Linked DNA regions of Homo sapiens: region 1 is linked to region 2. Evidence: fine-mapped expression QTL. A gene starts in region 2. The other region holds a variant in brackets. All regions are shown on one strand. Distances are from middle to middle.

Region 1 (15,820 bases), 77 kb after region 2:
TCTGAATGCTTTCTGTTCTCACCACAAGCCTCTGACGTAGTTACTACTATCATCCCAATTGTGTGTATGTGTGGAGGTGTGTGTGTGTGTGTGAGAGAGAGAGAGAGAGAGAGAGAGAGAGAGAGGGTCTCAATCTGTCACCTGGGCCGAAGTGCAGCGGCCCTATTACAGCTCACTGCAGCATTGAACTTCTGGGCTCAAGCAATCCTCCCACCTCCAGAGTAGCTGGGACTATAAATGTGTGCCACCACACCTGGCTAATTTTTTAAACTTTTTGTTGAGATGGGGTCTTGCTTTGATACCTAGGCTGGTCTTGAACTCCTAGCCTCAAGCAATCCTTCTGCCTCAGCCCCCCAAGTGTTGGGATCACAGGTATGAGCCACCATGCCTGGCAAAATAATTTTAGAGACAGAGTCTCACTCTGTTATCCAGGCTGGAGTGAAGTGGCACAGTCATAGCCCATGGCAGCCTTAAACTCCTGGCCTCAAGTAATCCTGCTGCTTCTGCCTCCCAAAGCCCCAGGTTTACAGGCTTGAGTCACCATGCCGGACCTTTGATAAGTTCTGACATATGTATAAATCATGAAACCATCACCACACTCAAGACAAAACATACCCATCTCACCCCAAAAACTTTCCTCCTGCCCCTTGGTAACCCCCGTCTCTGCCTCTTTCTATCCCACCTCCTTTGTCTCTTCGTCACTACAGATTAAATCTAATCTTCTAGAATTTTATATAAATAAAATCATACTGTATATACTTCTTTTTAATGGAGGGGATCTGGCTGTTTTCACTCTACATAACTATTTTGAGATTCACCCATGTTGTGGTATGTATCAACCATTCATTCCTTTTCACTGCTGAGTAGTATTTCATTGCATGGATGTATCGCAATTTGTTTATTCACCTGTTAATGGATATTTGGGCTATTCCCAGTTTAGTTATGTTACAAATAAAGCTGCTATGAACATTGGCACACAAGTCTTTGTGTGGACGTATGTTTTCATTTCTCAGGATAAATACTAGGAGTGGAAGGGCTGGATCATGCAGTAGGTGTACATTTAGCTCTTACCAAACTGCCAAACTGTTTTCCAACATTTAACCATTTAATATTTACACCAGAAGTGTATGAGAGTCCCAGTTCTTCCATGTCCCTGCCATAGCTAATCATGGTCAGTCTTTTTAATTTTCACAGTTTCTGTGTGTGGTTTCAGTTTGCATTTTCCCAATGACTGATGACGTTGAGATTTTTTCATGTACTTGTTTGCCATTTGTGTATCTTCTTTGGTGGAGTGTTTGTTCAAATTTTTTCCCCATTATTAGGTTGTTGTTCTCTTACTGTTGAGTTTTGAGTGTTCTTTATGTAGTCTGAATTCAAGTGTTTTATCACATATATGCTTTACAAAGTACTTTTCAATGTCAAAAAAATCTTAAGGACCATGATAATAATTGTGATCTCACTATCTTTGTAGTTGAGAAAATTTATTTTATTTTATTTTATTTTTGATACAGAGTCTCGCTCTGTCACCCAGGCTGGAGTGCAGTGGTGCTACCTCAGCTCACTGCAAGCTCCGCCTCCTAGGCTCACGCCATTCTCCTGCCTCAGCCTCCCAAGTAGCTGGGACTACAGGCACTCACCACCACACCCAGCTAATTTTTTGTATTTTTAGTAGAGACAGGGTTTCACTGTGTTAGCCAGGATGCTCTCGATCTCCTGACCTCGTGATCCACCCACCTTGGCCTCCCAAAGTGCTGGGATTATAGGTGTGAGCCACCGCTCCTGGCCAAAGAAAATCAATTTTTAAAAGGTCTTCAGTGATTTAATAATCTTTCTAAATTAATCTCTAATATATCCACCACAGCAGCATGTATCTCCCTCTTAAGGTGTCTCAGTCCATTTTTGTGCTGCTATAACAACATGTGAGACTGGGTCATTTACAATAAACAGGAACTTATTAGCTCACAGTTCTGGAGGCTGAGAAGTCCAGTGTCAAAGTGCTGGCATCTGGTGAGGGCCTTCTTGTTGCATCATCACATGACAAAAGGCAGAAGGGCAAGAGAGGACAAAAGAGGGTCAAACTCTCCCTTTTATAACAACATCAATCCACTCATGAAGATGGAGCCTTCATAGTCTTATCACTTCTTAAAAGTTCTACCTCTTGATACTGTTATAATGGCAAATAAATTTTAACATGAGTTTTGCAGGGGACTAGCACTCAAACCATAGCAGGAGGTAATCCAACATGGTGATTAAGGACCAGCGTTGATCAGAAGAAAAAAAAGTCACACATAGCCATTTATAAGCTGTTAACACTACATATCAGGAAGGTGCTCAACCCCCAAGCACCTAAAGCACTGCTTCATCACTAGTGGTTTCTTGGAGAGAAATTGCCAGGACACACGTCGTCGGGTCTGGTTGCCACCCTCACCCTGAGTGTATCTTCAGGCTGAATCCAGTCCAGCCTCCATCCTGTTTTCCAGTCACCCCCAACCTACCTGTCTTTGTGTTGCCATGTCTGTCCTCCAATATGATGCAAGCACTGCCTCTCCCACACCTCGCTGTGTTCTCAGAAGCTCCTCTCTGTGATCTTAAACTCTCCCACATCCTCCATCTCTTCTCCTGCCCTACCTGAAACATGGCTGTCCCCAAGGCCACTGTGGCATTATTAGGCAGTGTCCTCATGGCCTGCAGTTGCAGTTTCCAATTCCTATTCCCTCCTCCAAAATCCTCAGCTCTTCTGAAGGTCAGGTCATCTAACTCCCTTGACCTCCTCCTTGAAGCTGTGAGCTACTTCTTGGCGATGCCCCTCCATGCAGGAGAGACTTGCACTTAGCTTCCTGCTTTTCCCCTCCTCCCCAACTCCTGCCATGTCATTTTTACCCATTTTTGTGACCTCAGCATTGATTGGTTGGAACCACCTAACGCCATGTAGTTGAACCATTCAATGCTCTGGCTTCTTAGGTCTTTAACAGATGTGTCCTCAATGATCTTTTTCACCATTCCACCTCAGCTACACACTCACACGGTCACTTCCTTGGGATCAACAGAAATGAACGCATTTGTGAAATCTTTATTTAAGCATCCTACCCTCTGACCACTACCTCTTTCCTTTCAATTCACTTACTCAAGTGCGTCCACTACCATACTTCTTCAACCTTTTCAAAATCTTCAACCCAGTGGCCCACCCCACCATGGCTTGACATTCATCAGCTCCTATATGACTTCATTCTCCTCCTCGTCTTGCCTAGATTTCATGGGCTAAAGTTTAAATTGAAGTAAAACATGCTTGTAGAAAAGTGTAGAAAAGTAACAGCTCAGAAGAATGAGGAGCAATTGCTTGATGGGTATGGGTGGGGTTCCCTTTTGGGGTGAGGAAAATATCTTGGGACTAGACAGAGGTGGTGGTTGCACAACGTTGTGAATACACTAAATCCCACTGAATTGTCCACTTTAAAATGGCTGATAGTCAATTACATGTTATGTGGGTTTTACCTAAATTTTTTTTTAAAAGTTGGCCGGGCGCAGTGGCTCACGCCTGTAATCCCAGCATTTTGAGAGCCCGAGGCTGGTGGATCACAGGGTCAAGAGATTGATACCATCCTGGCCAACATGGTGAAACCCCGTCTCTACTAAAAATACAAAAAAATTAGCTGGGTGTGGTGGCGTACGCCTGTAATCCCAGCTACTCAGGAGGCTGAGGCAGGAGAATCACTTGAACCCAGGAGGCAGAGGTTGCAGTGAGCCCACATCAAGCCACTGCACTCCAGCCTGGCGATAGAGCGAGACTCAGTCTCAAAAAAAAAAAAAGTAAACAGTTTGATTAATTACCACACAGTGAATACACATATTTAATCACCACATAGTTTAGAAAATAGAACCTTACCAGCACCCCAGAAAACTTCTTGAGGCTACTTCCACTTGCACCCTTCTATATTGCCCAAAGGCAACCACTATTTTGTGTCTGGATTCTTTTGTCCAATGTTTATGAAATTCATCCATGCTATACATAAATCGTAGTTCATTCATTTTCAGTGTTGTAAATATTCTTTTCTTTTTTTAGATTAAGGCAGTTACTTCATTTTGAACAAGGAAGTAGCATAAGCAACTCAGTGTGTGCCCCTTAAGATGGGAGCTCTTCCCCCATATCACTCCCCACTCCAAGGAATAATTTTGGGAGAAAAAAATGTCTTCTATCTGGCTACCTGTGATACCTATGATTGCACCTTCTTATATGGCGGGCACGTCATCACGTCCAGACGAGCATCTAAGGAACTGCATTTTGGGAGTTGAAACTTTCATTTGGGTCTGAGATGAATGCATGAACTAACACAGGGCCATGGACCCACTAGTCTTGATCAAGTTAGAGAAAATGAAGGTGACTATTTACACTTCCAAGTTGCTTTCTAGATCCTTTCATTAAAAAATGTTCTGATCAGGCCGGGCGCTGTGGCTCATGCCTATAATCCCAGCACTTCAGAAGGCCGAGGCAGGTGGATCATGAGGCCGGGAGATCAAGACCATCCTGGCTAACACAGTGAAACCCCGTCTCTACTAAAAATACAAAAAGAAAAAAATTAGCTGGGCATGGTGGCAAGCACCTGTAGTCCCAGCTACTCGGGAGGCTGAGGCAGGAGAATGGCGTGAACCCAGGAGGCAGAGCTTGCAGTGAGCAAGATAACAGGATTAAGAGATTAAAGTTTAAAGAGATTAAAGACAGACATAAGAAATTATAATAGTATTATTTGGGAACTGATAAATGTCCATATTAAGAAGAAATCTCCACAATTTATGTTCCTCTGCCGTAGCTCCAGTCAGTCTCTCCATTCAGGGTCCCTGACTTCCCGCAACACCAAGTAAGCTTTTCTTTTCTTTTCTTTTCTTTTCTTTCTTTCTCTTTTTTATCCCCTCTCTCTCTCTTTCTCTTTCAGATGGGGTCTTGCTTTGTTGCCCAGGTTGGGGTACAGTGGCACAATCACAGCTCACTGCAGCCTCAACCTCCCTGGCTCAAGCAATCCTCCCTCCTCAGCCTCCCAAGTAGCTGAGACTATGGGCACACACCACCATGCCCAGCTAATTTTTGTATTTTTTGTAGAGACAGGGTCTCATCATGTTGCCCAGGCTGGTCTTGAACTTCTGGGCTCAAGCAATCCTTCCTCGGCCTCCCAGAGTGCTGGGATTACAGGTGTGAGCCACTGTGCCTGGCCTAAACTTCTTTTCTTTATGAGTGACCCAATCTGTGGTCCTTTGTTATAGCAGCAGAAAAAAAAAAAATGACAGGTACTATGGGGGAAAATGGACAAGGAAGATCCTCTCATATGGGCGAGAGGGTGGTTATTTTGGCTGACCAAGGAACTCAGCATACTTCTGGAAAATGAGAAAAGGTGATATGGTTCATGCTGTTGACTCACACCAGTATTTGTTGCTTCCCCGCTCCCATTTTCACAACTTTATTGAAGTATAATTTTGAATAATAAACTGCATATATTTGAAGTTCACTATTTGATAAGTTTTGGTAAACATATGTAACTATGAAACCATCTCCACAAACAAGATGCTGAACATTTCCATTGCCATTGAAGGTTTTCTCATACCTGTCTGCAGTTCATTGCACTTTTTAACCTGTCCCCAGGCAACCACTGATCTGCAGTCTAGCTACATAAGTTAGTTTTTATTTTCAAGAATTTCATATAAGTGAAATAATACAATATATATCTTTGTTTGGTTTCTTTCAGTCAACAGATTACTTTGAGATTTAATGAAAATCAGTTTTGATTTTGCTCAAGTGATCCTCCCACCTCAGCCTTCCAAATAGCTACGACTATAGGCACGCACAACCCTGCCTGGCTAATTTTTAAAATTTTTTCTAGAGGTGGGGTCTTGCTCTGTTGCGTAGGATGGTCTCGAAATCCTGAGCTCAAGTGATCCTCCTGCCTTGGCCTTCCAAAGTGCTGGGATTATAGGCGTAAGCCACCACACCTAGCTGACTTTCATTTTCTTAACTGACTTTCAAAGAGAAATGTTTTAAATGTTGATGAAGCCCAACTGATTACCTATTTCTTTTTCTTTTTTTTCTTTTTTTTTTTTTTAGATGGAATTTTCTTCTGTGGCCCAGGCTGGAGTTCAGTGGTGTGATCTCGGCTCACTGCAACCTCCACCTCCCAGCTTCAGGCAATTCTCCTGCCTCAGCCTCCTGAGTAGCTGGAATTACAGGCATGTGCCACCATGCCCGGCTAATTTTTTTTTAGTAGAGATGGGGTTTCACCATGTTGGCCAGGCTGGTCTCGAATTCCTGACCTCAGGTGGTCAGCCCACCTTGGCCTCCCAAAGTGCTGGGATTACACATGTTAGCCACCATGCCAAGCCCCATCTATTTCTTTTATATCTTCTTTTGTGTTCTACTTAAGAAAACTTTGCTTATGCCAGGGTCCCACAGATTTTGTCCTATATTTTTTCTAGTAGATTTATAATTCTAGGTTTACATTTAGATCTATGATCCATTTTAGATTTTTTTTTTTTTTTTTTTTTTTTGAGATGGTGTCTCCCTCTGTAGCCCAGGCTGGAGTGCAGTGGTGCAATCTTGGCTCACTGCAACCTCCGCCTCCCGGGTCCCAGTTCAAGCAATTATCCTGCCTCAGCCTCCCAAGTGGCTGGGATTACATGCACATGCCACCATCCCCAGCTAATTTTTGTATTTTTAGAGAGACAGGGTTTCACCATGTTGGCCAGGCTGGTCTTAAACTCCTGACCTTGTGATCTGCCCACCTGTGCCTCCCAAAGTGCTCGGATTAGAGGCATGGGCCACCGCGCCCCGACATTTTAGATTAATTTTTTCGTAGGGTCTGAGGTCAAACTCCTGGCTTCAAGCAATCAATCCTCTTGCTTCAGCCTCCTGACTCACTGGGATGGCATGGGCCACTGTGCCTGGCTCCCAGCCTCCTCTTTAATCAAGGAGCTTTGGCTCTGTGAATTGACTTAGATCTCAACACAAGAGGCCATGACTGTCCACTGCAGTGACTCATCAGGTTTTTAGCTACCAGACCTAGAATTTTTCCCTCTGTTACAGATCAAGCAATACAATGGTAGATTGCCCATCTATTTCATTCCTAAGAACACCATAACTTAACCACCATCAAATATGTCTGCAGGCCAAAGCATTCTGATTGCCCTTTACAGTGGATGCATTTACTTTGTCCTTGGAGATTCAGTGCCACCCCTACCTATGCCACTCTGAGATCCCATCATCCCATCATTGAAATTGGGGAGACCATGTCAATGGCATATTTTCCACCTACCCTATAGAAGAGAGCAACCACAGAGCTCTCCTTTGAAAGAGGTTGCAGGTGCTCCATTTATTAATGCATTTCTCAATGCTTTAGTGAGGGAGATGTCTTCTGGGTTTTCTCATGGGACATTGTTTGGAGGTAGGACTGAACAATGACATGATGAGAACAGTAAGGTAATGTTTTATACCATATTCTGGGCTCTGTTCATGATTACTTTTTTCTGATAATAAGGACTGTTTCAATATTTTAGACATTTTAGAACATGACAGAAGATTACAGAAAGATATTAGGGTATTTTATGATTTGAAGTCTCACAAGGGACAGAAACCAGGGAAGTCTCCAGGTTCCTCAGCTGCATTTATTTGTGTATCTTCTTTTGAGGATTCTGCCATTATTATGACAGATTTTCCGTTCTTAGTTTTGGGTCTCTCCCTTCCAATTCTGGCAGGAGAAAAGCCCAATTTCTTTTTCTCTTATTTTATCAACATTCTTGGAGCCTTTACTGATAAAGGCAAAATTCAGTACAAAGCATACTTTTAACTGGCCTATTTAACAAGTATTTTAAAGAGCAAAAATCTTTCCTATCAACTTCCACAAAGGTGTCCAAAGTCATCCTTTTAAATTGGAAAGAGTTCTTAGGGAATTACGCAATGGTATGTACAAACCTGAACAGGCTGTACTCATGAGGACAAATATGTGATTTATCTAAGCATAGTAAATACTTCAGAGTTTAGTTTTCAGGGTTGGA[A/G]TGTCTACTGTAAACAGTAGCAATGACTATCTCTATAGCAAAATTTCCAAGCATAAGAAGAAATCAAGTTTTTCAAGAGAACATTTGCTCAGTAATACCTTTGCTCTTTTATTTATAGGGTAAAAGAGGGAAGAAATATGAGAAACATGCTTATAATACTTTTTTCTTCCCATATCCTTTTCCTTACCATAAAAAAAAGTTCTGTGGACTGGAATTAAAGATCAATGATGTATCACTGAAGCCATGAAGTCCTGCAAGTTTACATCATGATGATTCAGTGCTCCTGGATTAGCAAACCTTCCTCTCTGTGCATAAGCATCCCTCAACAATCCCAGGCCCCCGTGTCAGTACTGCTTCTGAACAACTCGCTAGTAAGCCCTTGAAAGAATGCAAACCTCTTTAATGTAGTCAAATGAAACAGATTTGTGCTCTGTCAACTCAGTCTTGACTTTTGCCTCCAGATTGTGGATTACTTGAGATGCCTGAAATATATTGTTTTTAAAACTGAAAGGTAGCTCCATCATTTCAAAAGCAGATAGTAGAGATGTTTACCAAGAAAAACATAGCCAAGGCCGGGCGCGGTGGCTCACGCCTGTAATCCCAGCACTTTGGGGGGCCGAGGTGGGCAGATCACGAGGTCAGGAGATCGAGACCATCCTGGATAACACGGTGAAATCCCATTTCTACTAAAAATACAAAAAACTAGCCGGGCGTGTTGGCGGACGCCTGTAGTCCCAGCTACTCGGGAGGCTGAGGCAGGAGAATGGCGTGAACCCAGGAGGCGGAGCTTGCAGTGAGCCAAGATCGCGCCACTGCACTCCAGCCTGGGTGACAGAGCGAAACTCCGTCTCAAAAAAAAAAAAAAAAAAAAGAAGAAGAAAAACATAGCCAAAACATTACATTCCAGCCCATGGGCAGTGAAGATTAGATTTTCCTGTTATCTTCCACCTGTTTTTGTTGTTGCTGTGGCTTTTTGGCTTGTTTGTTTTCATCCCTGCTGTAATCCCTGATTAACTCTTATTTTTTCAGGTTGTTGTTTCATGTATTTTGGCCACCACTTCCTGCCAAAACTATCTAATATCTGTACATCTCTAGAGGGTTCTAGCAACTATGCTGTCCTTTTTTATAGGAACTGATTCTTTTTTCTTTTTCCCACCCATTGAGCTGATTCTACTTGAACTCAATGAACTTTTGGTCTCTGTGCTTCTTTATTTTAATTAATTGAGCTTTCTATCTAAATTGGCACACTAAATCCTGAACAATCCAGAGCTGCATGTTTGGTCTAGATTGGTTAGCCACACTGCAGGTCATAGAGTTAGCGTGGAAAAAATATTCCAATTTCCAGACCCTTGTGAAAATCAGAATTAGCCAGAAGCACCAGTTTGTAGAATCATGGACAAATCTGGGAAAGCCCAACAATTTGGGGGATGTTTAGCCCCAGATGCACAGGATTGGATTAGAATTAGTTCTAATCTACCAGATGCGTTGGCACACACCTGTAATCCCAGCACTTTGAGAGGCCAAGGCGGGTGGATCACCTGAGGTCAGGAGTTCAAGACCAGCCTGGCCAACATAGTGAAACCCCATCTCTACTAAAAATACAAAAATTAGCTGGGTGTGGTGGCAGGCACCAGTAATCATAGCTACTTGGGAGGCTGAGGCAGGAGAATCACTTGAACCCAGGAGGCGGAGGTTACAGTGAGCCAAGATCGCGGCATTGCACTCCAGCCTGGGCAACAAGAGTGAAACTCTGTCTCAAGACAAAAAAAAAAAAGAATTAGTTCTAATCCTATTTATGGCATACTTTCCTCTGTGGTCCTTAAGTGGCCTCCTCCATTAAATATTGTTATGTTAATATACATATAAACATAGCTGTAGACATAGATAAATACTCATGAACCCACCATCTCAAGCAAAAACTAAGACCTTGACAACAACCTACATCTAACCATATGGTTGCTTTTCCCATCGTGTCCCTCTGCCTTTGTCTACTCAAGGTAGCCATATTGCTGAATTCCATGTTAACAATTTCCTTGCCTTTAAGTCACCATAGTGTTTGCAAAAAAATAAAAAAACAATTTCCTTGCCTTCCATTTCATATAGTTGAATTGCACGTATTTGCATTCATAAAAAGGAACTATTATCTTGGTCATAAATTTTATTAAAAATGCATTGCAGAATATGTAAACTCTTTAGATTCATTTATTATTATTATATTGTTAAGATTCCTCATATTTTTGTGTGTTGTTATGTGGGAGTTCAATCAGGCTGGTGGGAAAAATATTAAAGATAGTTATAAAAATAAACACAAACTTTCTTGGAAGGCCTGAAGGTTTTTACAGAAGTCTCAGGATAAGACAATGGCTGAAGGCAACCTAATCCTTACCTTGAGTAAAAAGCTTCAAGTGGGTAAGGAAGAAGGCAGAGTAGTGTATCTAGCTAGGTTGTTTAAGACTAACCTTTGATCTACCACCGGTGCTTAATTACTTTCTACAGGAAGTCCACAATGTCAATTACCCTCTGGTGGTGTTGACTCAAGCCTTTGTCAATTCATCTTTACTAAATAAATGCGAGTCTCACTAGTTGGTCAGGGCCATGGTCGTGACTGTTTACAGCACTCTGCTTGGAGTCTGTAAGTGGCCCAGACACTCAGCTGGACTGGCATAGCAGAATATCTGTGTGTCAGTGTACTTCATTCATCCATCGTTTGGGTCAGGGTCTGCAGATAGACCCCCTCATTGCTATAGTTCATTCATGTTGACTGCTGAATAACATTCCATTGCGTGGATTTACTACAATTTATTTATTCTGTCTTTTATAGTTAGGCTTTTAGGTTCTTTGCAGGTTTTTGCTGTTGTGAACTGAAATCCTGTGAACTTCCTTATGCAGTCACTTGTACACATGAAATGGTTTATGTTGGGTCTATACCTAGGAGTAGAATTGTTGGGTCATTGAGTATGTGTATTAGTTTCATAGAGCTGCTCTAACAAATTACCATAAACTGGGTGCCTCAAAAAAACAGAAATGTGTTATCTCACAGTAAGTGTCCTCAGGGCTGGTTCCCTATGGGAGCCTCTGAGGGAAAATCTGTCCCATGTCTCTCTCGGCTTCTGATGGTTGCCAGCATCCCTGGACACCCCGTGGCTTGTAGATGCATCACTCCAATTTCTATCTCTGTCTTTACATGGTCTTCTCCTCTGTGTGTTTCTGTCTCTGTCTCTCCTCTTCTTCTTTTTTTTTTTTTTGAGATGAAGTCTCACTCTTGTCCCCCAGGCTGGAGTGCAATGGTGCAATCTCAGCTCACTGCAACCTCCGCCTCCCAGTTTCAAGCAATTCTCCTGCCTCAGCCTCCCAAGTAGCTGGGATTACAGGCGTCCGCCACCACACCTGGCAAATTTTTGTATTTTTAGTAGAGATGGGGTTTCACCATGTTGGCCAGGCTGGTCTTGAACTCCTAACCTCAGGTGATCCACCCACCTCAGCCTCCCGAAGTGCTAAGATTACAGGCATGAGACCCGTGCCTGGCCTCTTCTTTTCTTATAAGGATGCCAGTCCTATTGAATTTAGGGCCCAGTATGACATCATTATAACCTAGCTACTCACATCTGCAAAGTTCAAATAAGATCACATTGAAGGTTCCAGGAGTTAGAATTTTAACATTTTATTCTAGGGGACAAAATTCAACCCATAATAGTATATGAATGCCCAAATTTAGGAGAAAATGTCAAACTTTTCCAAAGTAGTTATACAATTTTACATTCTCACCAGCATTGATAAGATTTGGTGTTATCAGACCATTCAAATTTTTACCAGATGAATGAGTATAAAATTGTGTGCCATTGTAGCCTCAATTTTTTTTTTTTTTTTTTTTGAGACGGAATCTCGCTCTGTTGCCCAGGCTGGAGTGCAGTGGCGCCACCTCAGCTCACTGCAAGCTCCGCCTCCCGGGTTCACACCATTCTCCTGCCTCAGCCTCCTGAGTAGCTGGGACTACAGGTGCGTGCCACCACACCCAGCTAATTTTTTTGTATTTTTAGTAGAATCGGGGTTTCACCATGTTAGCCAGGATGGTCTCAATCTCCTGACCTCGTGATCCGCCCACCTAGGCCTCCCAAAGTGCTGGGATTATAGGTGTGAGCCACCACACCCGGACTGTAGTCTCAATTTATACTTCCCAATTACTAATTATGTTAAACATCTCTTCATATGTTTATTGATCATGTGTTTTCTCTTCTGTGAAAACAGTTCTTTTTTTGGCCCATTTTCCTATTGGGCTGCTTATGTGTTTTTTCTTTTACTGATTTGCAGAAGTTCTTTATGATACCAGTCCTTTGCCAGTTTTATGTGTTTTGAATATCTTCTATATATAACTTTTTACTTTCTCTAACAAAGCAACATTTATCAATCTTTTTCTTTTATCACCAACTGGAGTGCAGTGGCATGATCATGGCTCACTGCAACTTCCCCAGGCTCAGATGATCCTCTCATGTTAGCCTTCCAAGTAGCTGGGACTACAGGCATGCACCACTACACCTGGCTAAGTTTTGCATTTTTTTTTTTTTTCAGAGATGGGGTTCTCGCCATGTTGCCCAGGCTGGTCTCAAACTCCTGAACTCAAGTGATCTACCTGCCTCAACCTCCCAGAGTGCTGGGATGACAGGGGTGAGCCATCACCCTGGGCCACCTTTTGCTTTATTAAATGCATACATGCTATGTATCTTTTTGCCTTTAAGTCCATTTTATCTAATATTGCTGTAGATAAACCAGCTTTATTTTGATTAGTATTTTACTGATATCTTTTTTATTCATTTACTTAGAGTCTTTGCAATTCCTTATGCTTTAGTTTTATCTCTTGTTAATAGCACATACCTGAATTTTTGTTATATCACATTTTTCCATCTTTGTCTTTAACTGATGAGTTTAGTTCATTTATATTTATTGTAATTATTTATTCGGACCTGTTTCTACCACTTTATTTTTTTTCAGTCTGACTCACTTTTTCTATATATATTATTAACCATTTCTTTAAATTGGTAACTATCTCTTCCCCCATAAGAACAAAACTTTATACACTCATCTCTTCATCTCTGTGCCCCCAATCCACATCATGTTATTATCTACACTTTGATGCCAGATTATTGTGTCTATGAGTTCTCTTTTTCTTTAGTCTTGGCTATTCTTTTAAGTCAAAGAAATTTTACCGGTGTACTTGGTCATCTTTACTTTACATATCTCTGGCAGTATCTACTAGATTTACTCTCCCTTTATTTAAGCCTTTCATCTAAAATAGTTTTCAGCATAGCCTTTGTGTGGTAAATCTTCTGAGAACTTCTGTGCCTGATAATATTTTTTTTTATCATGCCCTTATCTTTGAATGGCCAACTGGATATAAAAATAGAGGATGGGCAGGGCATGGTGGCTCACGCCTGTAATCCCAGCATTTTGGGAGGCCAAGGCAGGTGGATCACCTGAGGTCAGGAGTTCGAGACCAGCCTGGCCAACATGGTGAAACCCCATCTCTACTAAAATTACAAAAATTAGTCGGGCCTGGTGGCACACACCTGTGGTCCCATTTACTTGGGAGGCTAATCCAGGAGAATTGCTTGAACTCAGGAGGTGGAGGTTGCAGTGAGTGGAGATTGCACCACCAGGCTCCAGCCTGGGCAACAGAGCGAGACTCTTATCTCAAAAAAATAAATAGGCCAGGCGCAGTGGCTCACACCTGTAATCCCAGCACTTTGGGAGGCCGAGGTGGGAGGATCACGAAGTCAAGAGATCAAGACCATTCTAGTCAATATAGTGAAACCCTGTCTCTACTAAAAATACAAAAATCAGCTGGTCGTGGTGGTGCACACCTGTAGTCTCAGCTACTCAGGAGGCTGAGGCAGCAGAATTGCTTAAACCCAAGAGGCAGAGGTTGCAGTGAGCCAAGATCGTGCCGCTGCACTCCAGCCTGGCAACAGAGCGAGACACTGTCTCAAAAATAAATAAATAAATAAATAAATAAATAAATAAATAAATAAATAAAATTGAGGATGGTTTCTTTGCCTTTATTATTTTGAGAATACCATACCATTCCTCCACCATTTTTTTCTTTTCTTTTTTCTTTTTTTTTTTCCCTTTTTCTTTCTCTTATTTTTTTTTTTTAGAAATGGAGTCTCATGCTATTGCCCAGGCTGGAATGCAATACTATAATCATAGCTCTCTACAGCCGCAAACTCCTGGGCTCAAGAGATCCTCCCACCTGAGCATCCTGAGTAAGCTAGGCCTATAGGAGTGCACTATTGTGCCCGGCTAATTTAAAATATTTTTTTAGAGATGGGGTCTCACTATGTTGCTCAGGCTGGTCTCAAACTCCTAGTCTCAAGCAATCTTCCCATCTCACCCTCTGGAGTAGCTGGGATTACAGGTGTGAGCCACTATGCCCAGCTCATTCCACTGTTTTCTTACATCAGTTGTTGCTGTTAAAAAATCTGATGTCAGGCCGGGCCTGGTGGCTCACGCCTGTAATCCCAGCACTTTGGGAGGCCAAGGTGGGCAGATCACCTGAGGCCAGCAGTTCAAGACCAGCCTGACCAATATGGTGAAACCCTGTCTCTACTAAAAATACAAAAAAAAATTAGCCAGGCATGGTGGCAGGTGCCTGTAGTCCCAGCTGCTCAGGAGGCTGAGACAGGAGAATTGCTTGAACCTGGCAAGTGGAGGTTGCAGTGAGCAGAGATTGTGCCACTGAACTCCAGCCTGGGTGACAGAGTGAGACTCTGTCTCAAAAAAAAAAAAAAATCTGATGTCAATCTGACTTCAGTCCTCTTTTTGTGATGTTCTCTTTCTCTTTATAATCTTTTAGAATTTTCCTTGAATTCTTTTTTTTGTTGTTGTTGGGTTTTTTTGTTTGTTTGTTTGAGATGATGTCTTGTTCTGTCACCCAGGCTGGAATGCAGTGGTGAAATCACAGTTTACTGCAGCCCCACCCTCCTGGGCTCAAATGATCCTCCCACCTCAGCCTTTTGAGTAGCTGAGACTACAGGCATGCATCACCATGCCTAATTTTTAAAACTTTTTGTAGAGATGGGATCTCACTTTGTTGCCTATGCTGGTCTTGAACTCCTGGGCTCAAGTGATCCTCCTGCCTCAGCCTCCCAAAGTGCTGGGATTAAAGGTGTGAGCCACCATGTCCAGCCTTGAAATTCTTAATTTTACTATAAAATGTTCTGGTGTGGATTTTTTCTTATCTTTTTTCTATAACCTTTTTTATCTTTCTTTCATCTTTTTACAGTTATGGAAGATTATCTCATTTTTCTTCAAACATTTCTTTCTGTTCATTTTTCTTCTTTCTAGAATTCTTATTACCTAGATGTTAGTACTTCTGTCTTCCACATAACCTAGTTTTTTCTTTATATTTTATACGTCTTTGTTATTTTCTTATCTCTTCTGAAAGATTTCCTCCGCCTGGTCTTCCAAGTTGACAATTAGTTTTGCAGCTCTATCCATTTTGTTGTTTATCCATGTGATGTGTTCACTTCAACTATGATATTTTACTTATCTAATATTGCTTTTTTATGTTTTCTTGTTCTTATCTACATTGTCATTATCTTCTTTTATCTCTTTTTGTATATTTATTAGGCCAATATCACATTATCTATGCAACTGTTTTTATATATATAGTTGGATTCTGTAATCTAAAATGCTATGTTTCATTTCACATAGTTGTGATTCTGAAATCTGCTACTTTGACCTGTGAATTCATGTTTTCCTGAAGGTATATGCTCCTTTTCTGGGGAACACATAT
Region 2 (15,820 bases):
GGAGGCCAAGGCGGGTGGATCACGAGGTCAAGAGATCGAGACCATCCTGGCCAACATGGTGAAACCCCGTCTCTACTAAAAATACAAAAATTAGCTGGTCGTGGTGGCATGCACCTGTAGTCTCAGCTACTCAAGAGGCTGAGATGGGAGAATCACTTGAACCTGGGAGGCGGAGGTTGCAGCAAGCCGATATTGGGCCACTGCACTCTAGCCTGGCAACAGAGCAAGACTCCGTCTCAAAAAACAAAACAAAACAAAAAAACATATTTACTTATTTGGGGGGCTTCGTTCATTTGTTGTTTTTATAAATATTTACAGAGTGCTCACTACATAGCAGACATCATTGAATTAAGAACATATAAAATGGAATTTTCCTTTTTTTCCTAAGAAATTGGAAAGATTAAAGTATCTTCCTAACTTCTCTCTTCCTTTCCAAGGCTTCACATATTTTTTTTAAGAATGTATTAAATGTTTGATGTGGACTGATATCTGCATTAGATGTAAGACATGATATCTACAAACAGGAAGTTTACCTACTTAAGAAGGGATGTAAAATAATTCTTAAAGCATTTGGGCCGGGCGCGGTGGCTCACGCCTGTAATCCCAGCACTTTGGGAGGCTGAGGCGGGCGGATCACGAGGTCAGGAGATCGAGATCATCCTGGCTAACACGGTGAAACCCCGTGTCTACTAAAAATAGAAAAAAAAATAGAAAAAAAAAATGGTGGCGGGCGCCTATAGTCCCAGCTACTCGGGAGGCTGAGGCAGGAGAATGGCGTGAACCCGGGAGGCGGAGCTTGTAGTGAGCCGAATCGCGCCACTGCACTCCAACCTGGGCGACAGAGTGAGACTCTGTCTCAAAAAAAAAGGATTTGGTTAAAAGTTTGGAATAGCTAAAAATAAGAAAAAAGTATTTTAATTATACTAAATTCTCTGCAAATCTATTCTGCTACACTAAAGTTCTCTTGGCCATAAACATATCCCTGGAGCTTCTTCTCACTAACTCTTGGTATTTCAAAGTTATTTCACGTTTTTGTTCTTGTTTTACAAATGGGGTCTTGCCACACTGCCTAGGCTGGAGTGCAGTGGCTATTCACAGGTGCCATCATAGCTCACTACAGCTTTGAACCCTTGGGCTCAAGTGATTCTCCCACCTCAGCCTTCCAAGTACCTGGGACTACACACATGTACTATCATACCCAACTCTCATAGGGTTGTTTCTTTTTTTTGTTGTTTTTTGTTTTGAGCATTTTTCGAACAATCCAGAGTTTCATAAACTTTCACCAACAATTTTAAGTAGTCCCACGTTCCCTATGACTCAGGTTACAGAATCTGTAAAGCATAGTGGCTTAGCAGTTGTCCCCAGAACTACACTAATTCTATCCAGCACCATATCTACAACCATAGACACACTTGCTTTAACAGAAGTATAGCAGTTCCTTCTCAACACAAAAGGCAGGTTTCTGACAGTCCCGGGGATATTCATCTGCAGGGCCATTATTGAGAAAATAGGTTTGAAGGGATTGTCACTATAGGTGGAGCCTTTTGAAAAACTTTATAAATATTTTTACATTCACAAAAATAAAATTATAGAGACTAAATGGCATTGTATCTATCCTAAATTAGTAATGTTGGGTACATTTTAATAATCCATGTGACCTTCCTTGTTACTAGAAATATTTTAGGGTCTTTCTCACAATTTCAACAAAATATTTATAATTTTGTTTGGTTGCAGATATTATATATACCCAGAAGTGTTTTTTTCTTCTGTCTGGTCCTTTCTGCAAATGTCGAGTACTTTTTCACTTTATAATCTGGAGATGGTGACTTCTTGCTCCTTGACCCCTACTGTACTTCAAAGACACAGAATCACTTGAATGCTTGAGATGCTTTGGGAAGCTTTTATTTGAACTATTTGGCACAGCTAAGTGTTCTCCAGCCTTTCTCCCATAATACCAGATTATGTAGCCTTATCTTTGGCCATGAAAACTTTGTACACACTTCTCATCAGCCCTTTCTACAAAGTCACAGGTTTAAATGCCCTCCTGTTAATAAGGAGCATAGATCCAAGGACGAACTTTACTTGTCCTCATCTTCCTTTATTTCTTTTGAAAATGCAAAAAACTACTTTGGTTTTGACCTTTGCTTTGTCTCCCTTTTGTATCCTCAGTATCTATTTTCGCTAATTATTGCCACAGTAGTACTTAGAATCTAAATTGGCAAGGAAAAGTACTTAGAAATACACTAGGGTACTTGCATTTCGAGTAAGGGAACTTGAGGTTGGGCAGGGATCACAGAAATCCCCTTGGTTTATGACAGTCTGCTTTATTTTCCATGGAAGGTAAGCAGAATAAGGTACAGTTCTAGGTTGAAAGTTTTTGGTAAATCACATTTTCTATTCTCTGAGACCTTTTTTATGTAGCACTTGCTATTGCTTTTTCTTCATTTTAAATATTAAAAAAATTGTTCTATTTTTATTTCTTTTGTACCTTTTTCAAATTCCTTTATTTTACCCCAGCTTCTTTTTCTTCCTAATGCCAAGTCTCTGCATTTTCCAAGTCTCCAACCTGGTTTACCTGTCTTAGCAATTAAAAGTACTATGTTGACCAGGCTGGTCTCAAACTCCTGACTTCAGGTGATTCGCCCTCCTCAGCCTCCCAAAGTGCGTTTCTACTAAAAATACAAAAATTAGCTGGTTGTGGTGGCGGGCGTCGGTAATCCCAGCTACTCAGGAGGCTGAGGCAGAAGAATCGATTGATCCCAGGAGACAGAGGCTGCAGTGAACTGAGATCGCACCATTGCACTCCAGCCTGGGCGACAAGAGTAAGACTCTGTCTCAAAAAAAAAAAAAAAGTACTAAACAGGCCAGGCAGGGTGGCTCATGCCTATAATCCCAGCGCTTCGGGAGGCCAAGGTGAGTGGATCCCTTGAGCCTAGGAGTTCAAGACCAGCCTGGGCAACATGGTGAAACCCCATCTCTATAAAAAACACAAAAAATTAGCCAGGCGTGGTGGTGCCACTGCACTCCAGTCTGGGCAACAGAGTGAGACCCTGTCTCAAAAAAAGAAAAAGAAGAAAAAAAGTACTAAATATCGTTTTTTTTTTCCGGTAGAGACAGCCTGTTAAGGACAAACCTGCAAAATATTAATATTCAAAGGCACCGCTAAGAGAACCAACTAATGGCAGTCTGTTGCAGTTACAAGGTTGACGTTATTTTCCTTATTTATTTTTGGTTGTTCAATCTAGGTAATATAACTTATAATTCAGGAAATCCAGATTAAATGAGCACAATTCATGCCAAGTAAATTTAAATGTCAGTCTCTGAGGAAAGGGGATAGAAGGAGACAAATACAAATTAGGAATGTATATTCATTTTTTATTTTTTTATTTTTTTTTTGAGATAGAGTCTTGCTCTGTCACCCAGGCTGGAGTGCAATGGCACGATCTTGGTTCACTGCAACCTCCGCCTCTGGGTTCAAGCGATTCTCCTGCCTCAGCCTCCCAAGTAGCTGGGATTACAGGCACACACTGCCATGCCCGGCTAATTTTTTTGTTTGTTTTTAGTAGAGACAGGGTTTCACCATGTTGCCCAGGCTGGTTTCGAACTCCTGAGCTCAGGCAGTCCATATCCCTCGGCCTCCCAAAGTGCTGGGATTACAGGCGTGAACCACCGCACCAGACCTAGGAATGTATTTTTAAATGTAACACCCTAGGAGGCAGTTTGCAGAGTGGTTAAGAACACAGACCCTAGAGCCAGAATGTCTGTTTGAATTTAGCTTCATCCTTCATTGACTGTGCAACTTTTGAGTACATTTCTTATTTTTTCTTCAGCTTCCTCATCTGTAAAGTGGAGGATAGTTTTTCCCTCACATGGTTGTTACAAAGACTAAATTAGTTTATTTTTAAAAAACACTTAGAACAGTGCCTGGCAATAATAAGCACTACATAAATGTCAATCACTATTAGTTACTCAAAATTATAATAATGAATTGGTCAAGGCTCCAGAAATATGTCAGTTTTTAGAAAAATGAGTTTTTGTTAATGTTTCTGATTTTTAAAAAGATCACAAATGTGGTTTGGATTAGTCTAAGGAAAAATGTTTTGTTTAATAACTGATTAATGAGTTTTTAAAAACTCATTTCGTATGACCCAGTACAGAATGGGAAATTCACTAACAGAAGACGTCCAGCTGGCATAAAAAACATTAAAGAAAATCTTAAGCATAATGCTAATCTCAACTCTGAAACACAAGCTTTACATTATTGTTCTCAGTTCTCGAGTTCCTGGCATGTCTTGGAAGCAGACAGACTCTTTTTTTGAAGTAGTCATTCTTTCTTATTGCTTATGACTTAGATAAATGACCTTGAGAAACTATTTTTGGCTTTATTTGTGATTGTTATTTAAAGCGATAGCTGTGAAAGAGTGTCAAAACATCTTTAACGTTGTGCTTTTCAAAAAGAGAGGATAATTCCTTTGAAAGTAATAATGAATGGATATTAGAATCCCAGATATTAGAAGGAAAAGTGAGCTCATGGATGGTGTTAATCTGCCAAGACAGGGAAGTCTGTTTCAGGAGCTAACCAGTTTTGCTAACTTCATTCTGCTGAGCACACTCGAGTTGCTAGGATGGGGGCAAAGTGCACCGGGCAGCGCCCCAGCAAATTACTTTTCCAGCTAGGAAAGACTATGGCCCTTCTGCCTCTCTATAGTAATGTCCAATTCACGGCCATTTAGTGTCTGGCTTTTCATTGAAGATGTGACTGACTTGAATGGCCTAAATGTTTATTACATATATAATACATGTACTTCTTTTAATAATATTTCTGAACAAAATTTTTACTTTATAACAACTAATTCTATTATATTTTGTCTATACATGCATTATGGCAGCTTATATCCAATGTGGAGATAAATGAAACACACAAAAAAGGGCAAATCTGCATTTTGAACTGAGAGCATGTTTAAGAGGATTATAGCATTAATTATAAGAGAAAGAATTTGAGAGGCAGTGTTAAAGCAAACTAAATATGGCCTGAGAAGGACTCTGTACTTCTGTATTTGAGTCCTTGTGTACGAACTGTAACCTAGGTTAATAGGCAGACAAGCTTGAAAACCTAATTTAGGAGTATGCACCTGTAACAATAGCTGAGTCTTGGCCAATCCCAGCGGCCATACTTCAACCAGTCATACACTGCTGATTGTTCAAACTGTGTTCAAATAAGGCAAACGCCCCCCTGTAACCAATGCAGCTGTTTCTGTATCTCACTGCTGATTTCTGTACGTCACTTCCCTCTTTTTGTCTAAAAATTTGTTCTGACCACGAGGCATCCCTGGAGTCTCTCTGAATCTGCTGTGATTCTGGGGGCTGCCCAGTCATTCACTGCTCAGTTTAACTCCTTTAAATTTAGTTCAGCTGAAGTTTTTCTTCTAACAGGAATCAGACTGGTAAGCCTTGAATCCTACCTGTTTATCTCCTGCTCACCTGAAGTTGTAAAGTTTAGTACCTCTAGGCCTATTTCTTCACCTATAAAATGGGGACAATACTGACCTTGAAATCTTGAAATAATTCAACTAGATATATATATATGAACGGTAGAAAAATTTTGTCTCTCCAATATTCTGTTAAAATTCTCACCCCCTGCCCCGCCCCCAGCACTTCCCTGGGGTTAAAAAAAAAAAAAAAAAAAAAAATCAAAGCACTTAATTCCCAGCATAACGATGAAGGTTTGTCATAAAAGAAAATTTCTTGTGTGAAATGATTACCAAGAAAGTACTGCATACGCAATGGGGGAAAAGACCAACCCTCAATCAGTTTAATAATCACCTTGGTTATTAAATTCTATGGTAACTTAATTTCAACGTACAAAACTTTCCCTTAGTATTGTAATGAAAACACCATTTATAGAAAGAGAACCAGGAACCTGAAAAATTCCCCTCATTGCATAGATAGAAATCCTCCTTAAAAAACATTTATAACTCGGGTCACTAAAAGTTACGTATGGGAAATCATTATTTAAGTAGTGGGCATTTTATGTCCAGTTTCCCAGGACTTGATGATCCATCCCTAGGGAAGCCTTCAGGATGAAACTGATCTGGGAACAGAGGTTTGAGCTAGGTTAATTCTAGAGGTCGTCCCAGACATTTCCAGATGCCAAGCGGTATCTTTTTTTTTTTTTTTTTTTTTTTGGAGACAGAGTCTCTGTTGCCCAGGCTGGAGGGCAGTGGCGCGATCTAGGCTCACTGTAACCTCCGCCTCCCGGGTTTAAGCGATTCTCGTGCCACAACCTCCTGAGTGGCTGGGATTACAGGCGTGCACCACCGCACCCAGCTAATTTTTGTATTTTTAGTAGAGACGGGGTTTCACCATGTTGGCCATCCTGGTCTTGAACTCCTGACCTCAGGTGATCCGCCCACCTCAGCCTCCCAAAGTGCTGGGATTACAGGCGTGAGCCACTGCACCCGGCCTGAAGATGTAAAATCTACCACGGAAGGATGATCTAAGTGGGGAAGGAGATGACAGGTGACAGCCTCCCGTGTGGAAGCAGAAAGTAGCGGACGGTAGGAGCCGAAGGCTTCCCTCGGGACCCAGCAGACTTCCCGCAGCCTCCTGGGTTCCCGTCACATTCCTCGGAACCCTCAGTGCACCAGACAGGGGGAGCTTGGAAGAGGCAGGTCAAGAATCGCCCCCGACCCCGCCCCAGCGTTCTGCTCCCAGGGCGGCCTCCCACGCGCCCCGGACCACGCAGCCCGATGGGCCAGGTAGGGCGCGTCTCTGCACCGAAAATGCATTAGGGCCCGCGTGAGCCCCGGTGAACATCCACAGTGCAGTCACTAACAGGCATTACTCCTGGGGCCCACGTGAGTCTATTTAGCATGTGAGGGAAACCAGCCACGGCAGGGAGACTGGGGCTCTCCGTGGTGGCAAAGCCTGCTCAACCTGGGCCCGCGGAGGGAAAACTCGGAAGTCATTTCCATTAGCTCCCCTTCCCCCAAACTGATTCGCTTCTGTCAATCCATCCCTAGAAATAATGTCGAGGCCGGGACCAAGGGGTGCTGCGTTTTAAAAATTCTGCATAGGAAAACCCCTGGAAGTACTGAGGGACAGACAGCCCCACTCACCTGTCAGCCCTGGGGGCGTGCGCGAAACCGCCCAAGGAGAAAAAACCAGCTGGTGCGCAGGCGCACGCCGTCCCACATCCGCAGGCCCGCAACGCCACGCCCCCTGCCACGCCTCCGCGCGCCACTAGCCCCACCCGTCTCCCCGGCCCAGCCCGGCCGCTCGCCCTGTCCGGTCTCTCCCCGGCCCCTTGATTCTCCGCGTCTTCCTCGCAGGCCAGCCTAAGCTCAGCCTGCATTGCGCCCTCCCGGCCTAGGGTGTCGCTGTACCGGCCTCCGAGCTCCACATAGACAAGTCCGGACCTCGGGCGGGGGCAGGAGACGGAGCTGAGCGGCGGGGGGCAGTGTCGCCTCGGTCTAGGGACGGCGGCGGAGTCGGTGGTCCCTGCGCGATGGCCACCTCGGTGTTGTGCTGCCTGCGGTGCTGCAGAGACGGGGGGACTGGCCACATCCCTCTGAAGGAGATGCCGGCCGTGCAGCTGGACACGCAGCACATGGGTAAGGGCCCTCCCTTCCCCAGACCCAACGGCTCACGGGGGCCGGGCGCGGCGGGCAGGGGGACCTTCAGGGTCAGAGGGTCCCCACGCTGCCCCGCCGCGCCGGCGACGCTGCGCCGACACCATTTCGTCTCGCAGATCTCTCCAGAAGCCGGCGGACTCCACCTGGGCCCGGTTCTGTGTTCAAGGCTGCGCAGCCCTCTCTGTGTCTGTCATCGCGAATGGGCGTGTGGACCTCCCATTTTCACAGGAATCTCGGAGGCTTCCTCCGGAGATGTCACACGTCCTCGGGCGAGGGGGCGGAGAGTGCCCTTCTGGCGCGCCCCAGTGAAAACCTACACATTTTCAGAATGCTTCTAGGTCCGGTCTTGCTCCTCCTCCTGCCCTGACTGTCGGTCCTGTCTCTTGAGCCCCATCATTTATAGGTTGAATCCTATATTATTGGAAGTAATTTTCCTCTCACCTCCTAAAGTCGAAACAAGGCAGACTGCAGAAGTCTGAAGTCGCACCTCAGGTCAGAACTTGCCATTTCAACTAAAACCTCCCATTGCCCGACTCCTTAGTCATTGTGAGAGGTACTGTAATTTCATCTGACTGGCCTCTTCCCAACAGGTCTAACTGTTGAAAAATAAAATAGCACTTTGCTCCTTTGCATCTTGCTTTATCCTTTTAATTCCAAATCCATATAATTTATCTAACATTCTTCCTCTCCCATCATAGCCTCTTTCACCACCTTATTATTTCTTAGACTTTTCCCAGGTAGTTTCATGCTTCTGGAATGTGGTTCTAGAAGGAGAGATTTCCCAATATAATTATTTCAGTTAGAGTACTGTCTTTTTGTGGATTATTTTATTCTAACTGTACTTCTGCACTTTTGATTTTTTACACGTTTCTGATTGTTTAAAGGACAGTGCATTGAAATAAAAAGGCACTTCTTAATATTTATGATAAAACTCTCTCGCCCAGTTTCCTTATAATTCTGGAAACACTCTGCCCACTGTATTTTTGTATAACACATACTAAATGTGATAACTATATAATCACCTTGTATGTGTGTATTTACTTTTAATTCTCAGATCTCCCAAATGTAGTACAGAACCTTAATACATAAGTAATCTTTAAATTATTTTTTATCCATCATTATTTATAGACGATGGAGTTCAAATTCTATAGTTTTCCTCAGAAAATATTTCCATTTCAGTTACTCATTTACTGAAGTGATATTTATTAAGCAATTATCAGGTGGCAGGCATTGTTATAAGTGCTGAGAATATAGTGAAGGACAACCATACATAATTCCTGGAACTCATGATCAACTGCAGCACTTCTTCCTATCTTTACTGTTAGACTCTTGAATTACTGCAGTCTCCTCTTTGGAGCATTCCTTTTCTCTGTCATCTGTTTCCTCTAGGAAGAGCTGGTCAGATATACTCATTCCACTGTGTTTTATTTCTCCAAAGCTGTCCAGCAACTGTCAGCTACTAACTGGATGAAATAGAGTAATGTCATCTCCAAATTTTCTAACTGCATGGAAGTTTTTTCTTCTTCTTTTCTTTTTTTTTTTTTTTTTTTTTTGAGACGGAGTTTCACTATTGTTGCCCAGGCTGGAGTGCTGTGGCACAATCTCCACTCACTGCAACCTCCGCCTCCCGGGTTCAAGCAATTCTTCTGCCTCAGCCTCTTGAGTAGCTGGGATTACAGGCGCCCACCATCAAGCCCGGCTAATTTTTGTATTTTTAGTAGAGACAGAGTTTCACCATGTTGGTCAGGCTGGTCTCGAACTGACCTCGTGATCTGCCTGCCTCTCAGCCTCCCAAAGTGCTGGGATTATAGGGGTGAGCCACCACGCCCGGCCAGGAAGTTTTTTCTTAGCCTGTCTTTCTATAAACTTAAATTATTCAATCACAGAGGAGCCTGATTTGAGAACCTGAATAAAATGAAAGAAAAGGGTTGTTGAGTTAGAAGAACATGTTTCAAGCATGAATTGATCTTGACTTGAAAATAGAAACACATGGATTTGGTGGTGTGAAAGATTATTATATTAAATAACCTAAAAAATGTGATTGCTTTTTTTTTTTTAACAAAATTGTCTGTATACTTCAAGTGATTCTCCGAGGGTTGTCACTTATTTTAGTGATGTTGTATTACTTAAAACCACTTTGGAATTCCTCTTTTGGAATTTTCTATGGCATAATTTTTGTAAGTATTATCATTGATGCCATATCTTTGGCTTTTAATTGTGAATCGACATTTTAGAAACAAATGACTTCCAAGGCAGCTACTTTGAAAGGGACACCGCTCATTTGGAAATTTATGTTTCTTAAAACATCCTCTGTGGCTATGTTTATGTGGCATTCTGGCTGTACTCAAATTTGCCTTGACCGTCTAAGCAGCACCAATCATTAAAAGTACAGATTCTAAAACCGTCTGTGTACTTAAGAGAAATGGGATAAGCTTAAAATGATTCCCTAATGACTCATAAACACCCTGAATATTCTTTCTTTCTTTTTTTTTCTTTTTTTTTTTTTTGAGAGGGAATCTCGCTCTGTCGCCCAGGCTGGAGTGCAGTGGCCTGATCTCAGCTCACTGCAACCTCCGCCTCCTGGGTTCAATTAATTCTCCTGTCTCAGCCTCCTGAGTAGCTGGGACTATAGGCGCCCACCACCATGCCTGGCTAATTTTTGTATTTTTAGTAGAGATGGGGGTTTCACCATGTTGGCCAGGCTGGTCTTGAACTCCTGACCTCAAGTAATCTGCCTGCCTCAGCCTCCCAAAGAGCTGGGATTACAGGTGTTAGCCACCTCGCCTGGCCAAGAGTGTTATATCCCATTGTGCTCTGCAAAAGTCCTGAGATTCTGATTGTAGTTGATTAGGTCATGTAGCAGTTCTTGACTCAGTTACTGTGGCCAAGAAATGTGGAGGGCACTGATTGCCTTAACCTAGATCAAATGTTGTACACCTGAAGCAGAGATTGAGTCAGCTTTCTTGGAACTGTTTTGATCTCCAGAGGGAAGTCTGTCGGGAGAGGGAGAACAGATACTGCATGTCCACTACAAAGTGCTTAGCACAGCATATTAATTCAACCTTTATCAGTTATTTGATGAGCAGCTGCTCAATGCCAAGCACTGCATGGTCTTTGCCATCAAGGAGGATGCTCTCCAGTTGAAATTACTGGAGGTATATGGAGTAGCCAGATGCAAATTATTTATAAAGGTACTTTCCCAGAATTTGGGGGTTAACTTTTTTAATTAGAAAAAAAAAGATGTTAATGAATTTTTAGTAATCATACAATAGGATCTCAGTTTTGCCTTGTTTAAGGGAGAGCATCTCTTAACCAGTTTAGAATTGTGTTAGAATCTGAAAATTTTGCATTTCTTTTATGTATTTGTACCAAATAATTTTGTTTAACTGTTAATTCAACCTTTTGTTACTATGACCTAATTTTATTTAACCCCTTCTGGAAGAGTCCCATACAGTTCGAATATTCAGATCTGCTTGGCTGGTACAGTTATTGCCAGCAAAGTGGTGGTAGTGGCCACAAGTATGGGGAGTTATGCATTGGTGTATGGGCTATTTCTTACATATTAGAATTATGTAATTCTGTGTATTCTTACATGTTAGAATTATGTATATTCTCTGATAGACATTTTCCTAAATCAAATTGGTACTAGGATCACATCAGGAGACAGTGTCTCTCTTTCTCACTCTCATCTATAGATGTCGTTTCATCTAAAAAATTTTCTACGAGAATAAAGTGCATGTAAGAATGTTAAAACCTTGTTTACATATTTGCAATGTGATTGAAGTAGCTATCTTAATAAACATTTTAAGATCCTAAAGTTAGCAGTTTGTCACTGTCAGGTATTTCAACATAGATGTGTGTTCTTTTTCATATTCCCTGTACTCTTCAGTTCTTACATGACTAATGCACAAGTATAGTAGCTTGTATTTAGTAGGCATTCAGGTGGCTTTTAGTAAATTGTTTTAATTCATTTGAATAGAATTGAAAACTACCAATTTACTAAAGTCTCTTGTGTTTATGTTTTGGTTTAAATTAAGAAATTTATGAAATCATCAAATTGGTTTCCTGGCTAAAAATTAAAAGAGTTAGTCTATTTCTACCTTAAAAGTGTTTTGAACGTTCAATATAATTCAGAGTTATTGCAGTTTACTTGAAACTGCTTAATTAAAACTTACTTCTCTCGCCCAGGCTAGAGTGCAGTGGTGCAATCTCAGTTCACTGCAACCTCTGCCTCCCAGGCTCAAGTGATCCTCCCACCTCGGCCTCCCAAGTAGCTGGGACTACAGGCTTGTGCCACCACACCAGCTAATTTTTGTATTTTTTATAGAGATGGGGTTTTGCAAGGTTGCCCAGGCTGGTCTCGACTTCCTGCACTCAAGCAGTCTGCCCACCTCGGCCTCCCAAAGTGCTGGGATTACAGGTACGAACCACTGTACCCAGCATGCTTAATTAAAACTTATACATACAAATGAATATTACTTATAAATGTTCTCTTAGGAAAAAATAGTGAATTAAATATTTAAAATAATTCAGCTATATTTCAAAGTACTTACAGTGTCCCTATTTTTTGTGGACTGAGTTAGAACTGAACAAATTAATCCTGATTGTTGGATTGAAAATAGAAAACTTGGCCAGGCGCGGTGCTTCACGCCTGTAATCCCAGAACTTTGGGAGGCCAAGGTGGGCGGATCACGAGGTCAGGAATTCAAGACCAGCCTGACCAATATGGTGAAACCCCCATCTCTACTAAAAATATAAAAATTTAGCCAGGTGTGGTGGTGCACACCTGTAGTCCCAGCTACTCGGGAGGCTGAGGCAGGAGAATCACTTGAACCCAGGAGGCAGAGGTTGCAGTGAGCCAAGACCGTGCCACTGCACTCCAGCCTGGGTGACAGAGCAAGACTCCGTCTCAAAAAAGAAAAGAAAAGAAAAGAAAATACAAAACTTTACATAGTGTCTGCATTTTTTGTTTAGGAACAGATGTTGTTATTGTAAAGAATGGAAGAAGAATATGTGGAACAGGAGGTTGTTTAGCCAGCGCACCTTTACATCAAAACAAAAGCTATTTTGAATTCAAAATCCAGTCCACAGGTTGGTATAATGGTACTTTACTATTAAAAGTCCTAATTGTTCTAAATATTAAGAGTAATTTGTAACACATAAAAAAGATTCAGAAGGTAATATAAAAGCACCAAACTCTTAGAAGATCTGGGTCTTCCACCTCTTGTTGTGTGATCCTGGGTAAATTAGTTAATTTAGTTAAATTAGGTTCAGTTTTCTCATCTATAAAATGGGTATTACAGGAGCTGCCCATTCTGCCTCACAGGAACTCTATGTATGAAAGTGTTTTAAGACAAGACATGCTGCATAAATATAAGGCACTAGTATTTTTAATGGGATCCGGATGAACCCTCTTGTTTGGTCAAGCATATAAGGTCAAACATATAAGCAGCATATACTCTTGCTATTTATTTTAGGATTAAAGTCAATCTGTTGATTCTGAGTTTTTCTTTTTTTTTTTCTTTTTTGAGATGGAGTCTTGCTCTGTCACCCAGGCTGGAGTGCAGTGGCGCGGTCTTGACTCACGGCAACCTCCGCCTCCCGGGTTCAAGCAATTCTCTTGCCTCAGCCTCTTGAGTAGCTGGGATTACAGGCATGCACCACCATGCCCAGCTAATTTTTATATTTTCAGTAGAGACAGAGGTTTCACCATGTTGGTCAGGCTGATCTCAAACTCCTGATCTTGTGATCTGCCCTCGTCGGCCTCCCAAAGTGTTGGGATTACAGGCATGAGCCAGAGTTTTTCTCTTAACTCAGTTATTAAGATACCCTGATTCAGTGTTTTGAAGCAGTCATCAAATTCAGAATTCAGATAGAAGTCTGCAGTCTATATTTCTCTTTTTAAAATTTATGGAGTTTCTTGAACTGTAAAGCAATTCTATGTGATTATAATAGGTTAGTTAACTGTGCCTGTATTGTATATGGGAAAACTTTTAAAATAAAAGCTTTACTGTAAAGTGATCGGGCATAGTGGCTCACACCTGTAATCCCAACACTTTGGGAGGCCGAGGTGGGCAGATCACCTGAGGTCAGGAGTTCAAGACCAGCCTGGCCAACATGGCGAAACCCCATCTCTACTAAAGATACAAAAATCATCCAGGCATCGTGGTGGGCACCTGTAGTCCCAGTTACTCGGGAGGCTAAGGCAGGAGAATTGCCTGAACCCGGAAGACAGAGGCTGCAGTGAGCTGAGATTATGCCACTGCACTGCAGCCTGGGCAACAGAGTGAGACTCCGTCTCAAAAAAAAAAAAAGTGGCTGGGCGTGGTGGCTCACGCCTGTAACCCAGCACTTTGGGAGGCCGAGGGGGTGGATCACGAGGTCAGGCATTTGAGACCAGCCTGGTCAACATAGTGAAACCCCGTTTCTACTAAAAGTACAAAAAATTAGTCAGGCGTGGTGGTGGGCGCCTGTAATCCCAGCTACTCGGGAGGCTGAGGCAGGAGAATCGCTTGAACCCAGGAAGAAGAGGTTACAGTGAGCCGAGATCGTGCCACTGCGCTCCAGCCTGGGCAACAGTACAAGACTCTGTCTCAAAAAAACAAATACAAAAACAAAAACAAAACAAGCTTTATTGTAAATAAACTTCTAGTGAAATACTGCATCAGTAATGTGGGTAGAGAATAGGAAAATGAGAGTGGAGTAAATGAATCTTACTATTACTTGGCCAGCCTTGAATGATATAAAATTTCCCCCTAGGGCTTATTTTCTAAATTATTTTTACTTATTTATTTATTTATAGATGGGGTCTTGCTCTGTCACCCAGGCTGGAGTGCAGTGGCATGATTATAGCTCAGTGCAGCCTTGAGCTTCTAGGCTGAAGCAGTACTCCTGCCGCAGCCTTCCCAGTAGCTGAAACTACAGGCTCAAGCCACCGTGCCTAGCTCTAAATTAGTTTTAAATAATGATTTTCAATGGGGCATGGTGGCTTACACCTGTAATTCCAGCGCTTTGGGAGACTGAGGCAGGAGGGTTGCTCAAGGCCAGGAGTTTGAGACCAGCCTGGGCAAACATAGCACAACCCCATCTCTACAAAGAAAAGAAAAATTAGCTGGGTGTGGTGGCTTAAAATACTGGGTAAGAAAATGATTTTACACCTTATTGTTAATTTCTCCTCTCCATGATATTGCTTATGGTATATATTGTTTGTCACTCATTGTAGATGTAAAAACTGAAGACAGTACATTCCCACTTTTCAAAGGGAGAGCTTGAAATTGAACTCCAGGCCATTTAAATTCAATGTGTAGCTTTTAAAAAATCTTTTTGAGATAATAATAATGATGATGATGACAGCTAGCATTTTCTGAATACTTACTGTGTGCTTTACTTTCTCATGCTGTGGAGTACTTACACTGTTCAAGTGCTTTACTTGGATTATCTTGTTGTATCTTTTCATTACCTTGCAAGGTGAGTACTGTTAGAATCCTCAGTTCACAGATAAGGGAACAAAGAGAGGTTAGGTAATTTGCGCAAGATGATGTAGCAGAGTCAAGATTTAATCCTCATTTGCACTGTTCCAGGGCCCACTCTCTTATCTCCTAGGCTGTACTACATCTGTGGAGAACATAGTATAGTTTGCAAACTACTTTTATTTTATTTTATTTATTGAGACAGGGTCTGGCTTTGTCGCTCAGGCTGGAGTGCAGTGGAATGATCATGGATCACTGCAACCTCAACTTCCCTGGCTCCAACAATCCTCCCACCTCAGCCTCCTGAGTAGCTGGGGTTACAGGCACATGCTCCCATGCCCAACTAATTTTTGTATTTTTTGTAGAGACGGGGTTTGGGCATGTTGCCCAGGCTGGTGCAAACTACTTCTAAAAGAAGATTTTTTAAAAAGAGTAATAGAAAACAATTTAGTGTTAATACAGCACTTCCTTTAAAAAGTTTATACTCCCTTTTAAAATAACTCGATGGTTGTAGTCTTCAGATTTTGAGGGCATTTAAACTGTTATATTTTTAGGAATCTGGGGTATTGGTGTTGCAACTCAGAAGGTTAACTTGAATCAGATTCCTCTTGGCCGAGATATGCACAGTCTGGTGATGAGAAATGATGGAGCCCTTTACCACAACAATGAAGAGAAAAATAGGCTGCCAGCAAACAGTCTTCCGCAGGAAGGAGATGT

Direction of the effects. Alleles are on the strand shown, and positions count from the first base shown. SD is a standard deviation of normalised expression in the study named.
For the expression in fibroblasts of the gene that starts at base 7,403 in region 2, A is the high allele of the variant in region 1 and G is the other (small effect, 0.40 SD a copy in GTEx).

The links. PIP is the estimated chance that this variant, and not a neighbour inherited with it, causes the effect.
Region 1: its variant is fine-mapped to the expression of SPRYD7 in fibroblasts (GTEx, PIP above 0.99). The same link has a PIP of 0.9 or more in lung and stomach.

Annotation. Positions count from the first base shown.
Region 1 is chr13:49,850,876-49,866,695 of GRCh38, reverse strand. No RefSeq gene overlaps it. Among named protein-coding and RNA genes, the nearest start is that of KPNA3, 66 kb to the right of the region's middle. The variant A/G (reference allele first, on the strand shown) is at 8,032.
Region 2 is chr13:49,927,923-49,943,742 of GRCh38, reverse strand. SPRYD7 (SPRY domain containing 7) reads left to right here and starts at 7,403. Exons shown (of 5, transcript NM_020456.4): 1 at 7,403-7,613; 2 at 12,609-12,725; 3 at 15,658-15,820. The coding sequence starts at 7,508. RefSeq lists enhancers at 6,423-6,472, 7,343-7,592 and a silencer at 7,053-7,302.